2 separate regions of the Homo sapiens genome follow, and region 1 is linked to region 2. Evidence: fine-mapped expression QTL. A gene starts in region 2. The other region holds a variant in brackets. All regions are shown on one strand. Distances are between the middles of the regions.

Region 1 (2,898 bases), 130 kb after region 2:
CCAGACACGTCCCAAAACCAAGCCCCAGGCCACCTACCAGTGGCCCACTCCAGCAGCGGCTCCCCCACCCAGCGAGCTGCCCCAGCCCCATTCTCATCCCCACACGCAATCTGCCAGAAGTCCTGTTACTTTCACCTTCAGAACACAGAGCTGCTACTTCTCACACCTCCACCCCGGCCAGGCTTCCATCACGTTCCCCCAGGGATATGGCTGTCCCCACCACCAGAGAGCGCAGGGCTGGGAGGACAGAGTCTGCCGTTGCAGTGACTCTGACAGCTTCAGGCACAGACAACTTGCACCCACCTCAGGGCCTGGCACAGGCTGTTCCCTGGGCCTGGAAAGCCGCGCCCCAGCCTGGCAGCTCCCTCGCCCGCTCAGGCTCTGCTCAGAGGTCACTTTCCCAGACCTGGCACCTTCTCCCCGCCGCACATCCTGGAAGAGCCCCAGGGCCCTGGCTTTGCTCCAGAGGCACCGCAGCACCCAGCGGGTTTGCCCAACTCCACAGAGTCTTGGGGCCCCGGTACGGCTCACCTCTCTCAGCATTCTTGAATTTGATCGTTCTCCGCCTGGGTAGCCAGGGACTGGCAGCCACCTCAGCCAGGAACCCGGAGCTGCAGAAGCCCAGGCTGCTGCCGCGGTTCCTGAGCACCAGCTTCAGCTCCTGGTTCTCCTGGATGAGCTGCACCAGCCGCCGCAGCTCTTCGTTCTCCTGTGCCAGCCGCTGGATCTCCTGCCGCAGGCCCTCATAGCTGCTGAGGAGGGACATGCCTGGCAGCCAGCGGCGGCAGCTGGCGGGGGCCAGCAGGCCGGCCAGGGACAGCAGACCCTGCTATTGTGAGGTCAGCAGCTGCCCCTGCCCCCTCGCCTCAGCCGCATTCCGGGCCTTCAGGGTCAGGACCCAGCTGTTCCAACCACCCCGTGGCAGAGGTGGCCTGACCTCTGACCTCCAGCCCCCTGAGGGCCAAATGGCCAGTGGGTGCCCAGAACTGTCCCAGGTCTCTGGCTCACTCCAGGAATCCTCCTCCTAGAAGATGGAAGCTTCTTTGACCCGGCCAAGCCCAGGTGTGTCGTGGGGGAAGGGATATGGGATGCAGGCTTCCGCACCCACCCGTCTGACAGCCCACTGGCCACCAGCCACAGCCTCCAGGCCTGGCCATGCCAGGACATAGTTTTAGGCAACCAGGTGTGGTATGTCGGCAGTCACGGTTGGCACAGCTTCTGAAGGGATCAGGAAGGGTGGGTGCGTGGCTGCCCTGCAGGATGGGGCCCAGCAACAGCAGGAGCTGGACAGCAGCAACCAGGGCAGGCCAGGGCTACAGGGGCAGAGCCAGCCGAGAGCACGCTAGGACAGCATGGGAGGGGGCTGCAGGCCAAGGGATGCACCAGGCAGTGCTAGAGCCACCACAAGGGAGGCTGGGCCTGTTTCTGGGGGCACAGGGCCTTGGCATTGTCACATGGAGGTTGCAGCGAGCAGGCAGGTGCCCTGGAAGAGGCACCACATCTGGGCCATAACCTCAAGGAAGGGGATGGGCCAGGCGGCCCACCAGAG[G/A]CTGAGGACCAGGACCTAAAGACACACCTCCCCAGGGACAGGAGAGCCACCCTCACCCTCAGTGGTGACAGTGGTTTGCATTTTAGATCACATAAAGGACTTTCTTCTTCTATCCAATCTGTCTTTTTTTTTTTTTTTTTTTGAGATGGAGTCTTGCTCTGTCGCCCAGGCTGGAGTGCAGTGGCGCCATCTGGGCTCACTGCAAGCTCCGCCTCCCAGGTTCACGCCATTCTCCTGCGTCAGCCTGCCAAGTAGCTGGGACTACAAGTGCCCGCAACCACGCCTGGCTAATTTTTTTGTATTTTTTTTAGTAGAGTCGGGGTTTCACTGTGTTAGCCAGGATGGTCTCAATTTCCTGACCTCGTGATCTGCCCACCTCAGCCTCCCAAAGTGCTGGGATTACAGGCGTGAGCCACCGCGCCCAGCCTCCAATCTGTCTTTAAAGGGACACTTCTGCACAGTTACTTTGGTTTTCTGGCTTTTTCTTACATTATGATTATTATGTATTTTACATCATTTTTCTCTTTTGCTTGTTTGATGGTCTAGTTTCCACTTGCTGATTTGTAGACTGTCCTGGGATTCTCAAACTCCTTTCCCTGGCTACTCGAGTGGAGCCATCGCAGGGCCCCTCACCTGTGCGAGTGGGGGCAGTGCCCCTGAGACTAGTGCTCCAGGAGACTGGGGGCAACTGTACTGAATCCCAACAGAAATTGTGACAATTTAATTCTCGGCCGGGTGCAGGGGCTCACACCTGTAATCCCAGCACTTTGGGAGGTTGAGGCGGGCAGATCACCTGAGGTCAGGAGTTCGAGACCAACCTGGCCAACATGGTGAAACCCCATCTCTACTAAAAAAAAAAATACAAAAATTAGCTGGCCGCGATGGCAGGCACCTGTAATCTCAGCTACTCAGGAGGCTGAGGCTGGAGAATCACTTGAACCTGGGAGGCAGAGGTTGCAGTGAGCTGAGATCGTGCCACTGCACTCCAGCCTGGGCAACAGAATAAGACTCTGTCTCAACTACAATAAAATAATTCCTATAATTAGGAAGAAAATGGAGTAGAGTATTTTTATTTTTTTATTTTATTTTATTTACTTTTTTTTTTTTTTGAGATGGGGTCTCACTCTGTCACCCAGGCTGGAGTGCAGTGGTGCAATCATAGCTCATCGAAGCCTTGACCTCCCAGGCTCAAGGGATCCTCCTACCTCAGCCTCCCAAGTAGCTGGGACCACAGATGCATGCACCACCATGCCTGGCTAGTTTTTTTGTTTTTTTTTTTTGGTAGAAACAGGGTCTCGCTATGTTTTGTTTTGTTTTTTGAGATGGAATCTTGCTGTCACCCAGGCTGG
Region 2 (2,898 bases):
GAGCTGGATTCCAAGTAGAGTGGGCGGCCGGAGAGGCCCCAAGGAGGGAAGGCAGGCAGAGGTCTCCAGGTGGGGCAGGCGGGGCCCGGAGGGGGCAGGGGCACACGTACCAGGCTGTCCCCCGAGAGGACCTCCAGCAGGGAGATGAGGTTGTGGCCATCGCGGAGGTCTTCATACAGGTCACTGATGTGCCTCTGGGCCTGTGGGGACAGCAGCGGCTGAGGTGGCCAGTCCCCCAGAGCCACCAATAGGCCCTGAGTGGCTGATCTACAGAGTGGGTGCTGGTCCCAGAGGGAAGGAGGCGGGGGCTGAGTCTCCCGGGAGCCCACGGAACACACCCTGCCCCACGGAGGCACCTACCTCTGCCCGCCAGTGCTGCAAGGAGAGACCAGGAAAGACCAGAAGGAAGAGGAGGAAGAGAGAGGCAGGAGCAGGCGTAGGGAAGAAAGAGGACAGAAAATAACAGGTTTCAGAGATGAAAGGTGAGCACACAGGCAGCATGGGGACAGCCTTGGGCGGCAGGGGCCACCCTCCCTCAGCGCCTCCCACAGCCTCAGCCCCTGTGACACGCACCAGCATGCGCCACCAACCTTGATGAGGTGCTTGTTGACCCACTTGGTGAAGGTTTTCTTCTGCACACGATCCCGCTCATCTGGGGGAGACAAGACCAGCTTACCTGGGGCCTGGGAGAAGCCCCGGGGGCCCTCAGGTGACCACCGTGCAGACACAGCAGCCTGGCTGGCCAGGTCCTGCCTGGGGAGCCCCAAAGCCTCCCTCAGATCACACACTGAGACCCAGGCGCCCTCACCCGCAGCCCAGCCACACAGCAGAGACCCAGGTGCCAGGGGCCCAGGCGCCACCAGGTGCAGCCACCCCACCCCGGACTCTTCCCCCGAGGAAATGGGAGGGTCCTGGGCGCACCCTGAGCCCAGGGCACACAAGTCCCGTCCTGCAGTCCCCCCCGGCCTCTACAGACTGAGACCCAAGCAGGGGTGTGGCAGAGCCAGGGCCCGGGCCCGCTGGGGTGTTGGAAGGGAAGCCGCGTGTGCTGCTGACAGGGCAGCGAACCTTCCCCAGAGCGCAGAGTTCCTCGCCCTTCCAGGCCCGACATCTGACGCTCGGAGGCCCCCGTCAGCCTCGCGGGCGCCTGTCGGCCCACTCCGTGTTGGGTGGGGATGGCTGGCCCCCGACCCCCATCTCCAAGACCAGCCCCCCAGCGGTGCCAAGGCTTTCCTGCCACAGGAAGTGGGCCTTCCTCCCGCAGGGGCCCGCCCTGCCTGGCGGGGGTGCCCGAGGGGAGCCCTGCTACCTTTCTTGCCCTCAGAGGCCCTGAGCACAGCCAGGTACAGGTTGTCCTCCGAGCTGGTTCTCTTTCGGCCCAGGCCCTCGGGCTGCGGCACGCGGAGCTGGTGCTGAGACATGCTGCCCCCACACCTTCGTCGCCCGGACCCTCGGCCTCAGGCACGGTGCTCTGGGCAGCCCCGTGTGGCACACAGGCAGCTGAAGGCTGGCGGCCCCACGAGACGCTCACTCGGCACAGGCTCAGCTCAGAGCCCCAGTCGGTGCGGCCACTCCCTGCCTGCTGTACTCCCCGGCGAGGCCGGCCCGCCCCCGAGGCCCCACCCTGCCCAGGCCGCCGCCAGGGAGGGGAGTGTCCCGGCGGGAAGGAGCAAGCAGCCCCCTCCCCCACAGACACGCCCTCGGCCCGCCAGAAACAGGAAACCGGGGTTTCCTCACCCACCCCGACCACTGCAGCCCCCTAGGGGGACCTGGGGACACGGGGAGCTGGCACTTCACTGCACACCAAATGGTGCCAGGACCGCAGAGGAACACAGGCCGTCCCCACAGCCACCCAGAAGGACCCCCCAACAGACTGAAGGGCTCCCCCGACGGGAGGGGCTCTGAGGCCACGCCTCTCTTTGGAGCTCCCTCCAGGCCTGGGCCAGGCCCTGCTTCAGCCTCTGCCCACCCACCCTGCCAGGGCGGACTCAAGAAGCCGCTGATACCTGGCGAGGGGAGGGGACCTGCTGCCTGTCAGCTCTTGCAGCCCCCCAATCACACCTCTTCACAGACCTGCATGAAGCGGGGAGCACACCCTGCCCCATGGTGCCTGCCCTGGCCCTGGGGCCAGTGGGGTCCCACCCCAGGCCTGGCCCCTCCCAAGCTGCCCACCTGGCACATCCTGGAGCAGTGCCCACCTGCGGAGCCCACCCTGCCCCAGGCAGACACCTCACGTCGGAGGCGCGTAGCTGAGGGCTGACTCACGGAGGCCGGGCCTCATGGGGGAATGGAGCATCGGGAAGCCCCAGGAGGGGCCTCGCCAGTGAGTCAGGGATGGGGAGGGGGCCCAAGCCTGTGACTCACAGAGGGGAAGCCACACCTGAGGCAGGACCTGGGCGACCCCAGGGGTGGGGGGTGCTGTTTGCAGCTGGGTGGGGCTCAAGGGAAGCAGTCTCATGCTGTAAAGGGCAAAGGGCAAAGGGCCTGCGCTGGCTGGGGCCTCCGGCTCCCTGGGGTCCGGGGCGGAGCTGCCTCTGGCCAGCTTCTGGGCCTGCCCAGCCCACCCGACCACCATAGGAAAGAATGCGCTGCCCCAACCACAAGAATGTTCCAGCCGCACATCAGGCAGATTCGGTCCAGCTGGGAGCTGCACTCGGCCTCAGTTCTGGGAAGAGCTCACCCCACCTCATTCCTACTGCCCCTGAGGCCGTGAGGGGGCACCAGAACCCTCACAATGGGGGGTGCCCAAACCCCTCAGAGGTGGGGAAGCCCCCACTCCACGCCAAGGGGCACAGCCAGCCCCTAGGGCTCTGCCACATCGTACACGCCGCCCAACGAAGACACCCCTTGGTCTCCATGCATGGTCTCTGAGCCTGGCATGAGATTCAGGGTGACCCT

The links. PIP is the estimated chance that this variant, and not a neighbour inherited with it, causes the effect. A credible set is the group of variants that fine-mapping cannot tell apart.
Region 1: its variant is the best candidate, but not a certain one, in a credible set for the expression of PLEC in whole blood (INTERVAL, PIP 0.78).

What each region holds. Positions count from the first base shown.
Region 1 is chr8:144,063,169-144,066,066 of GRCh38, forward strand. It overlaps a transcript of OPLAH not described here and a transcript of EXOSC4 not described here. Among named protein-coding and RNA genes, the nearest start is that of OPLAH, 3.9 kb to the left of the region's middle. The variant G/A (reference allele first, on the strand shown) is at 1,550.
Region 2 is chr8:143,938,041-143,940,938 of GRCh38, forward strand. PLEC (plectin) reads right to left here and starts at 1,557. Exons shown (of 32, transcript NM_201384.3): 1 at 1,310-1,557; 2 at 591-652; 3 at 111-200. The coding sequence starts at 1,421. RefSeq lists silencers at 1,174-1,273, 1,554-1,783 and enhancers at 1,294-1,533, 1,944-2,003, 2,181-2,475.